Homo sapiens: one gene and its partners. The protein of the gene in region 1 interacts with the protein of each later gene in a biochemical or structural test. Each region holds a gene or a part of one and is shown on either strand. Other genes may lie near its edges. The genes, in order: PTH, MEP1A and PTH2R.

What was found.
Region 2: of the proteins of PTH (region 1) and MEP1A, one has a biochemical effect on the other in vitro, tested with the Homo sapiens proteins (one study listed by BioGRID).
Region 3: the proteins of PTH (region 1) and PTH2R form a complex in vitro, tested with the Homo sapiens proteins (one study listed by BioGRID).

The regions. Positions count from the first base shown.
Region 1 is NC_000011.10:13,493,058-13,497,285, reverse strand, and holds the start of PTH (parathyroid hormone isoform 1 preproprotein), read left to right. Parts: upstream 1-1,288; 5' UTR 1,289-1,375; intron 1,376-4,228. UniProt on the Homo sapiens protein: Parathyroid hormone elevates calcium level by dissolving the salts in bone and preventing their renal excretion. Acts by binding to its receptor, PTH1R, activating G protein-coupled receptor signaling.
Region 2 is NC_000006.12:46,817,341-46,820,995, forward strand, and holds part of MEP1A (meprin A subunit alpha precursor), read left to right. Parts: intron 1-2,188; coding exon 2,189-2,364; intron 2,365-3,655.
Region 3 is NC_000002.12:208,448,230-208,451,884, reverse strand, and holds part of PTH2R (parathyroid hormone 2 receptor isoform 1 precursor), read right to left. Parts: intron 1,137-3,655; coding exon 1,076-1,136; intron 1-1,075. UniProt on the Homo sapiens protein: This is a specific receptor for parathyroid hormone. The activity of this receptor is mediated by G proteins which activate adenylyl cyclase. PTH2R may be responsible for PTH effects in a number of physiological systems.

The DNA of each region.
Region 1 (4,228 bases):
TATATCTCTCATTATAAACTCCATACGGTTACTATTCAAATTTGTACTGGCTCTTACCTAAGGTAGAGTCAAACCTTGACAATGGCTAGTAGGAAAAAGGATGACATGAAGCCAGGATGGGACCAGAGCTGAGAGAACTGATCCCACTCTGGCACCGGATCTTTGGTGGGAAGGCAAAGCTGTCTAAAGGAGTCCTAGATATATCAAAGACATTCAGGGTGTTTTGACAGGTGGACCAGGAAAATATTGCTGGAGGAATATTTGAAGTCAGACATGTGGCAGCATCATGCCTCCAATAGGTTTTGGAGCAGGCTCTCATCATCCCTTAGGGAACATGAGAATAAAGACCTAACCCCTAGGGGAAAATGTTGCAAAGAGCTTTTGCTGTGTTTTCAGATGACTTTGCAAATTAAAGTCAAGAAGACTGGAGTTCAAAGAAGGGCTGTATTTCTAGGCAGAAACTGAGGTAGTAAGAATCTGGTGTCATAAAGACCTTTGTTGAATTCCATCTTTTCTGCTTTCCAAGCCTAAGTTTCCTCATGTAAAAATGGGGATAAGCACTTAACTTTAGTACTTTAAGTACTAACTTTAAAGGACTGCTGTGAAGATCTAGTGGGATAATATATGTAGTTAGGCATGCAGTTAGTGCTTATCAAATGTTATTATTATAGATTAAGATGCACAAATAAAATATAAGTTAAATAAATTTTAAAATAATTTCACTTTTGAAGCTTTTAAAGTAATTATGTACTAAGAGCATTTTCTCAAATTATTCTTAACACTTCCTTTAAGAAAAGGGCTATATCTGTTTTTTGAAAGATGACCAGAAGTGACATGGATTGGTTGAAAATGGCTTGTAAAGTAAGCCTAACATTTATGATTTATTACCATAAAAACTGTACCAACAGTACGGTTATAACAAATACACTTATTTTTGGGTTTTATTTTCAAGTAAGATAATGACTTTATCATAAACCTTTGAAATCAGTCTTTTTACAGTATAAATTCAGATTCATTAATCCACATAGAATTTTTCTCGATGGTATAATTCTGTATTTGTTAAAAGTCTTTGCATAAGCCCCTTGTCAAGCCAAATGCTGTTTTCCTTTTAGTATCCAATTATCTGAAACTTAAGAAGAGTGTGCACCGCCCAATGGGTGTGTGTATGTGCTGCTTTGAACCTATAGTTGAGATCCAGAGAATTGGGAGTGACATCATCTGTAACAATAAAAGAGCCTCTCTTGGTAAGCAGAAGACCTATATATAAAAGTCACCATTTAAGGGGTCTGCAGTCCAATTCATCAGTTGTCTTTAGTTTACTCAGCATCAGCTACTAACATACCTGAACGAAGATCTTGTTCTAAGACATTGTATGGTAAGTAAACTTAAAAATTCACTTCTGAATCTCATGAGATTTTGATAATCAAGTTATTATTTAATGTGTACCATTTCTACAAATACCATGTTGTTTCTTCAAGGTAAAATGCTAAGAAGTTTGAGTTATGTTTAATATAAAATGCCACATACAAAATAAATTAATGCTACTCAAATCACAAAATCCTTTTTGATTAAAGTCTTCTGAGATACCTTGCCTTTTAAAACCTCATCTGAAATTACAACAAAAAATCATTAAAATTTGGCATGCTATGCTTTAATATAATAGTATCGGTGTCAAAATTTTGAAATAAAACAGGTTGATGGTGAATGAATAGTTCTGATTTAAATAATCTTTATAAATTTATTAAGTGGAGTTAATATTCTGTTTTTCCTGCAGAGTATTCTTATCTAGATTATTTATTTTATGGCTCATAAAGAGCCCAATCTGTATACTAAAGTTGGATAAGCCCAGTTTGACTAGTAAATATTTATTTCCTTTACATAAATGACAGCTGTATTCTGAAAACAGTATTTCCTATGCTATTTCTAAATGATGCAGTTTCCCTGTAAAATAGGAGTACATAACTACTCTATGTGTATGTTAAAAGGTAGTACACTGAGCATTAAGGAAAAGCACTTCTATAATAACAGCCTTTGCAAGTACTGAAATGCAGATTAAGGCAAGAATATCCTATACTGATGTGAAACGAGGAAAGAGACAAAAGTTATATTAAAAGATAATTGTTAATAAAATAAGTTGAAGAAATAAGCTACAAACAAGCATTCCATTCAGAGATAAAGCTCGAAATCCATATCACAAGTAATTAATCAGATGATTTTTAAATGCTTTGACACATTATTTTTAATGCTAGGAGAAATGTGAATTAATTTAGTGAAAATCTCTAGATTAGCACCTATTAGTTTGGTATTTATGGTTATTACAATGCCTGAAATGAAGGTTACTTAAGAAAAGGATTTGCTACGTAAATAGTGTTAACAATTTACACTATGAAGAAAATTAGGCATTTTCAAGCAAGTTATAAACATTTAGGTATAATCAACATAAAATGCAGTGCGGGGGGATTTCTCAAAAATAGGCTCTTTCATTCCTCTTGTAGCTTAAGATTTCTGCAGTGTGACAGAAGGGAGCATGAGAAGCATGGCTCACCAGCCAGCCTCTATTGTCTATGTAATTAGAAGCTTCAGAACTCACTAATACCACTGTACCTTTCACTGGCGCATTACCCCATAAAACTTGAGATGAGGTGAGATCTGAGTATAAAGATAGGTCAGAAGTATTTTAAAGGGCTTAATTTGCCAAAAAGAAAAGTAAAAAGCTAGAGACCCTTTTTGCAGAACATTTGGTGACCACACATTTGAGGGAAGATGTGGCATTAGATGAAGCAGAAGCAAACCCTGCTCTTAGGGGCTCATCTAGGTGAGTGCACAGCCTGTGACACTACAGGGAGAGGCTCAGTAAACTGAGATCCAGCATTCTGTATGACAGAGGCATTGCTTATCACAGAGGTTCTGAATTTTAAGTAGGAAGTACATAATGAAGAGGGCTTTAAAAATTGCTAAGAAAGCGAGTCACCAGGGCTGGCAGTAGTGTAACAGGGCCATCCTGAGCTGTTAGGAGAGTAGATGCAGGGAGGGCTGGTGACCTCCGTGGGTTTATCTGTTGGAGACTCTTCTCTCCAAATCCCAGGCCTGGCTTCCAGCACCATCCAGCTGTGCCCAAGAAGCCACGCTGGTCTGTTCTCCAAGTCTTTTAAATGGTGCCTAATTTTTCTAAGTGAGCTTAGCAATGAGAAGAAAAAAAAAACATGAATTATTTTTCTGGAAAATCAAGGAGACATGGGTAACAACAGGCACTAATAAATATTTATAGATGAGTGAATGAGGAAATAATTACATAAAAAAGGTCAGTGACAATTGATAAATGACAAGGAAATATTTAATTAGGTAAAAGTAAACCATTGCTCTCTATACTAGGATAGACTTTATCTACTTCGTCTTTTCCTAAGTCAGCATGTTAATTCTGGGGGAGGATCATAAGAAAGGAAATACTTTTTTAAAAAAAATTTAAAAACATGTAACAAAGCAAGGGTAAAATATATGTATATACATAAGTGGTATGACTGTAAAACTGTACTTTCCATTAGTTATTAGCTGAGTTAAGAGAATGATCACGTTGAAGTACTGTGTGGACTAGAAATGTACTCTGTCATCATGCAATGAAATGTTGCTAACATTTTAACATAGCTCATTTATGCAGAATGAATTCTGGCAGTTTACCCCAAGTCACAGTTAGGACGGTAGATGGTGAGATCGCAGATGCGTGATTATCTAGATTCAGTGTTACATTTTTGATGTTTATCACTCAGTGGATTTTTATTAATATGCTGATTAAGTTATTTACTTGGCCAGTCATTGTGCTAAATAGTTGCTCTTTTGTGTTTCATTGCCTTGATGTTTGAGTGTAATCTAGCATTTTAATACAGTGTTTATTTTGCATGATCTTTAACAAATGTTTTAAGCAATTTTAAAAAGGCAGGATGTTATTGACATTATACATTGAAGTCTTAACATTTTAATATTTATAGTGCTTATTAGTTTGCAAAATTGTATAATTAGGAATTATTTCAGAGACAATGTTTTCTTTTTCAGGTGAGTAGTTGCCGCTTAATATCATTGGAGTACATTCTTTATACTGTTTGTGAAATTAATACTAGCATATTAAGTGTACAAATAGATTTAGAAAACAATAAAAAATTGCATTCTAAAAAAATAAATAAAAATAAATAAATAAATAAATAAATAAAACTTGCACAAGAAATCTCCAAAAGAT
Region 2 (3,655 bases), on another chromosome or scaffold:
GTGTTTTATTGCTTGAGGTTTTTGCAGGTCATATAAATGGAGATAACCAATAGTAGTTAGATAGTTTATTTTTCTGTAAAGGGGAAACATTTAAAGTATATCTCAGGCCTTGCAAAGACCACACATTTTAGGGCCTCTCTGCTTTTGACTACTGCATTTTGTCCCTTGGCAATCTCTGACCTTCAAGGAAGTGCTAAAACCCTTAATTTTTCATTGAAAACGTCAGAGAAACAATTAACTTTATTAACAAATTTATTTCCATTCTTCAGCTACCACTTTTGCATCATTCTTTTTTCACAAAGAAACTCCTTAAAAATAAAACAAAATCCACATAATTACTTTCCAAAATTCTCACTTTCACAGTGAAGTTCTCCCAACTTCTTTTTTTGTTTTCAAGTGAGTCCCAACTACTTGATTAAGGGGTAGGTCAGCTTTGAGAGACATTCTTTGTAAAAGCACTGAATCTGGGAAACCTAATCACCTATGGCCAGGAGATGTCTCTGTTACAGATAATTTAAGAGAGGGAAAAAGAGAGGAAGATATTTTGGGAAGGGACTGGCCCAAAGTGCCCCTAAGCCCTTCAGGGCACTGGTCTCCTGAAGTTGGAGGCTAACTGGGACTCTTTCAGAAAGACAAGGTCAAAAGTTCTCAGTGAGGTGGAATGTATGGTATTTTTGCAACTTATGTCTTTCTGTTGGGGGAGGAATTTAAAAAGAAAGATGAATAATAAATGCTTTCTCTGAGTTGTGAATATTTTGCAGAGTAAACTCTGATTTGGTAATAAAATGCCACTATCAGAGAGGCAAGTTGATCATGGTTACATTTGCATAACACTGTAAATTTACTAAAAGTCATTGAATTGTATACTTAAAATTAAAGAATTTTATAGTATATAAATTATACCTTAATAAAGTTATTAGAAAATAAATAACTAAGATTCATCTTTGAGTAAAAATCAAATCTGTTAGCCTTTGAAGGTATACTGTGTCAGTAGTCTTGGGGAGAACATTGGCAGGTAAGACACTGTGACTGTCACCATGAAACTTGCAATCCATTGGTTGCATTTATGACTATCAGGAAATCTTTCTTTTCTGCTCAGCATTGGGTAAAATATAGATCTTCATTTGACAATTTAAAGCCAATAGGAGACAATTTGTGGAAAGCTTTGGGTTTGCTAATAGAGGTGAAAAATTGGGTTTATGAGAAGAGAAAAAATAATTGGGGGGAGAATGAAAGAGGAAGACATTCTACCGTAAGGAATTCAGGGAATCTGACAGAGGTTCCCGAGCCCACTGATTTCAGAGGGACGCTACAGGTCCTCCTTGCCTGATACCCTTCAGAAATAAGTTAGGCAGCCTTCTCTGTGCTGTCATAACACTGTAGATCTGCTATTTCCGAAGACATGGATTTTATTAATTTGCTTTTTAATGAGGATCTTTTTATGATCATAAAATATATGCTTGTTCATTATAGGAACTTTGAAAATTTATTAAAGTATAAAAGGGCTAGGTGCGATGGCTCACACCTGTAATCCTAGCATTTTGGGAGGTCAAGGAGGGCAAATCGTTTGAGCCCAGGAGTTTGAGACCAGGCTGGGCAACATGGCAAAACCCTGTCTCTACAAAAAAATAAAAACATTATCTGCCTGTGGTTCCAAGTCCCAGCCTCTCAGGAGGCTGAGGTGGGAAGATCACCTGAGTAGAGGAGGCTGAGGCTGCTGTGAGCTGTGATTGTGGCACTGCACAGCAACCTGAGTGATAAAGTGAGACCCCCAATCTCAAAAAAATTAAATCAACCACAGCTTTCCCTCAGACAACAATTTTTTAGATAAAGGCAACAGTGTTATTCTTTGGAGTGCCCTGTGGGTTTGTGGAGGTGAGAAGGAATGCCAATGTTTATTGCTTTCTACCTTGACGAATTGTTATAATAGGATTGATTTGCTTCTGAGTATGTGCCACTTTTATAATGTATTATATCTTCACTTTTAAAGCCTGCACAGTATTCCCTCTAGGGAATGCTCCTTCTTTAAGCAGTCCCCATCTTTGGACCATTAGCATATGAGAATGCTGTTGGTAATTTCTTTCTAAAATCAAGCCTAATTTCCTCCTAATTTGTGTTTTGGAGTACTGTGAATGACAGCCACTTAAAAATTCTCTAGAAGAAATTTTTCCTCTTCTCCTCTTTAAAGGTGCTGGTCTGAGGTTGGTGACCAACATGTGGGACAGAACATTTCCATTGGCCAAGGATGTGCCTATAAGGCCATCATAGAACACGAGATCCTGCATGCTTTGGGATTTTACCACGAGCAGTCAAGGACGGACCGGGATGATTATGTGAACATCTGGTGGGACCAAATTCTTTCAGGTGTGATTGGGCGGAGATTGCTATCACATTTATCACTGGCTGAGACCAATCCTGAGATGACCAAGCCAAATCTGTGTGGACAGGAGCTTCAGCCTCTCTAGTGGGAAGAAAGACTCTGAAGAGGTTATGATTTGTTGGCCCTTTATGTGGGCTGTGCTGGTCTGACCGGAATTCATCGCAGATAAGGGCCTCAAGGAATGGTGTTAACTCACTGTGGGGGTCAACTGAAAGTTAACCAGAAGCTTTGCTTTATATCAGTGTTTTCATTAAAACTCTATCTAAAACTCTACTTTCCTGTCTTACTGAGGAAAGTGAATCCAGATTTTAAAGTCATTTCTCTGGATGTGAAATCTCCTGTGCCTCTAGAAGGCTGTTTGAGGTTTAGTTGATTATTCCATGACTATAGGGCATACTCAAGAAGTATTTTTTCCAGTTGCTTTACCAAATCAATAAAAAATGTTTAAAAACAAAAACAAAAATAAATGCTTTTATCTGAAATAACACCCCAATTATGTTAATTCTAGCTAGTTATCTGGGTTCTGATTAATCAAAGGTGAATGTTTTTTTCTTCCTTGTTTCTAAGCACCTTGCTTCTTCTGCCTCCACCTCATACAATGCAAAATACAACAGTTTTGTCTTACGTATTATTCCGTTGTATTATTTTAACTATTTCATTGTTCTTTAGGTTGTTTTGTTTTGTTTTGAGACAGAGTTTTGCTCTTGTGGCCCAGGCTGGAGTGCAATGGTGCGATCTCAGCTCACTGCAACCTCTGCCTCCTGAGTTCAAGCGATTCTCCTGCCTCAGGGAGGCAGATGGGATTATAGGTGTGTGTCACCATGCCTGGCTAATTCTGTATTTTTTAAGTAGAGATGGGATTTCATCATGTTGGTTAGGCTGGTCTTGAACTCCTGACCTCAGGTGATCGGCCTGCCTTGGCCTCCCAAAGTGCTGGGATTACAGGCATGAGCCACCACCGTGTCCGGCCCTTACTTTCCTTAATTGTTTGAGACAATGAAGTAGAGTGCTTTTGAGTACACTAAAACATTTATTGAGCAGCTTCCTGATGTGGTAGAAAAAAAAAAAGTCAATGCTGTGTTTCTGAAGATACCTAGTTTTTAAGAAGGAATTAGTGAAGAGAATGCAAAAACATTGTTTTTGGCAGTAAGAGATTAATGAAACTTTAATATATTTAAAATGCCTTAACTGTTTCCGGCATGGCTTTTATAAAACAAATAATAGCCTTGTGTAGGTATCTGTTTTATTTAGATCCCAATTTTATATGCGGATTCA
Region 3 (3,655 bases), on another chromosome or scaffold:
TGGTTATTTAAATGTATTAGGTGTACCATGATACATTAAAATGTATCCTTAAAAATGATACATTTTAAATGATTTATAGCATTGTTTTCTTGTACTTTAAAATGACACATTAAATTAGCTCCATGCTACCTGGAAGAACTTAATGACTCACAGTTAGAGATAAATTCCACTTCTAATATGTGTTTATTATTTTAAAATATTTAATTCTGCTATAGAAGATATGGTAACAAATGGGATGCATGAAACCCACAGTTTGCATTAAATATAGATAAGGATGAGTTAGTAGACCACACGTGTGTTAAACCCAGGTACTAAAGACACATGAGGCAACTGAGCTCTAAACATTCATAATATACTAAATATACAAGAGCCATGAACAATCCCTGATACAAAGGAAGTTCTTAATATTTTTGAGGGCATTATCAGCCTCAAAAATATTTTGATTTTGAGGATTCATGGATTGATGGAACTCCTTCCCACATGTCCTTTTCCCAAGGGCCACAAATAAAACCCAGAACTTCTCTGCAGGCTAATTCAGAAGCTACAAATGTAGCCAGTGTACTTGCCTCTCCATCTCTATGAGGAAGTATGTGTCACTGGCCCAGGGCACCAGATTCTGTCTGTAGTTCCCCTTCGTGCTACCTTATCGCAGGTCCTCATAACCACACCATCCTCAGGAAAAGTTGATGTGGCAGAGAGAGAGAGAGAGAGTATGAACACTGCCTATCCTAGGAATCAGGTAGTGTAGTTCTTCAACCTGCTTTCACTAAATCCTAAGTGGATTCTCTTACCCATCTCTTTCCACTTGCTTCTCACATTATATTTTACATTTGTTTCTTAATCTATGGAGGTCAGGCACCTTCATCTAGTCTGCGAGTGTTTCTGCTCTATGACCTCTGGAATAGACAGCTTGCTGGTAATGTGTTGGAAGCTACCATCGCATCAAGGTAATTTTCCTTGTGGCATCCCTAAAAAGCAATGGCATCAAGAACAGAAGCGAGTGTGAATTCTGAGCAGGAAGCCTGAGTCTTGAGAACATCTGAGGTTCTCTCGTTTCCCCTGCCTTTTCACTCACCTCGCATCAGCCAGAGTTGCTCGTGCCACAGCCCATGCTGCAACAAATGCTGCTGGAAACCCTGAAATCAGAAAATGATTCAGAGACTAGATTTATTTTAAGATTAAGGAGGTTTTTTCCTCAAATTCACCATATATAAGAATATACTATTAGCTGTTCAGAGATAAAAATAGACATGAAAATTTCTGATATGTGAACAAGAAAAGTCCACTTAATTTTTAATCATGTCAGTTTGAGAAATTAGCAAGAATATTGATGTTATTTGTTCCTCTAGTCTGAAGATAAAAACTGGCCTAATTTTCATCTGAGGGGTGTAGGGAAAAGCCATATTTGGAGAAGAGTGAAGTTCCTAGGGTTGGAAGTAAGCAATGGTTGGCATTTGACTTTGACTCTTGTCACGCTGACCATCATATGCTCTCAAGGAGTGAAGCAACACAGGGACTCCTGAAAAGCTGAGGGATGCTGTTGTTTTAAAAACTTAGAATTTTTTCATCCTAAAAATGGAAGGCATACTGAGGCAAGTTATAAAAATCAGGAAGTTTTAACCAGTTTAGTCTCTTCTTTTAGTTCACGTTGGCACAAGACAGAAGCATTTTCATGCATTAATAGAAAAGGGTGACCACTATATTTGTCTGATGATTTGAGCGCGAGATATTTGTCCTTCATAAGTGCTAAACACCTTCTGGGCTTGTAACATCAAATCCATTATACCGACTTTCGTTTGCCCCCCAGTAAAAGTTCACTGTCCAGCTCATGTTGTATTTGATTAAACTCTGACATCACACACAAAAAAATCATGAACCATAACTTATATGGAATACTGCAGTAGGGGACTGAAAGACTTAAGAGATGACTTTTCATTATGTGGCCTTTATGAAAGTGGTTTAAATAAAGGATATACAGAAACCATAAGGAAAACATTTTAGAATCTAGGAAGCACCTTACAAAAGGGGAAAACAAAATTTTGGTCTAGCCAAGAACATTTTTTATCAAGCATAACTTTAAATTCTTAACCTTTAAAAAAATTGTAATTTTTTTATATTCTTTCTTAGCAACAAAGTGAACAAAGAAATAGGCTTAGAAAAAGAAAATTTTCAGAAAAAGATGAAAATGATGATATGCACAATAATGTCTTTGGTCTCCTTAGTGACCATCTAACTTAAGTTCAGCCTGCCTATATCACTACTGAATTTTATGATTCTATATTCCAATTTTATTTCTTGTTTCTATAGTATTCTTTCTTTAATCTGCTCAAATTCTGTGTTCTAGGAATTTTTTGTCAAAATAGACCTACCTAATTCTGGTTATTTCTTAGGTTCAGTTTGCATATTCTATCTATCTATCTATCTATCTATTTATCTATCTATCTATCACATTTCTCCATTAATCATTTATTGTCTATTTATGTGTCAAAGATTGTTCTAAATGATATAAATAATGAACAAATAAACAATATCCCTGTTTTCTAAAACTTATATTCTGGTGAAGCAGTCAAAATTAACAAAGCAACTTCAGTTGCTTTTGGTTATGAATTGGTGCTATGAAGAATAAATAAAAGTGATACTATGTAATGGGGAGGGGACAGCTGCTTCTGGTAGGATGATTAGATATAAATCCACCATACAGTCTGGCATAGATTCTACCACATGGCCTGACATAGATCCCTCAGCTGTTCTATCTTGGTTGTCTTCAAAAAGTGTCTGCCTGTCTTTCATCAATTTTCACATCTTATCATTCTTATATCTGCATCTTCTGCTTCCTTTACATTCTTCTGATCAGGTACTTCCTGAATGCTGTTCTATACAGTATTTATTAATGGTGGTTGAGTTGGCATTATGTTTTAGATGATAATTATGTCAAATATCGTACACAGGCATTATGTCTTCATAGAATTGCTTTTCTCACCTTCTTAGAGAATCTTATGCATAAGACTAGCATAGAGACTACCATGGAAGAATGAAGAACAGAAAACTACTTTGGGATCCTTTAAGGATTTTTTATCACGAGTCTTAATATGAATTGTTACATAATTTAGAACACAGAAATAAAGGCAAAAATACTTGACATGTAAATGTTGTTTTAAATTTAAATGTTAAATTAAGTAAATTTAATATAAATTTAAATGTTATCTAGTATGTGCATTTACTGAAAGTTGAGTTATTTTCTTTTTTTTTTTGAGACGGATTCTTGCTCTGTCACCCAGGCTGGAGTGCAGTGGCATGATCCCGGCTCACTGCAAGCTCCGCCTCCCGGGTTCACACCATACTCTTGCCTCAGCCTCCCCAGCAGCTGGGACTGCAGGCGCACGCTGCCACGCCCGGCTAGTAGAGACGGGGTTTCACCATGTTAGCCAGGATTGTCTCGATCTCCTGACCTCATGATCCGCCCACCTCAGCCTCCCAAAGTGGAGTTATTTTCATAAGACACGTCAATACAAAATAAATAAGTTTTGTGAAGACAAAACTTTAAATTAACTTTAAAATAACTACAAATTAAAAATGTTGAATATGATACATATGATCACAACAAGAAAACAAACAAAATAACCTAAAGGGTCAGAGTGCATGCATCTTGTGTGGG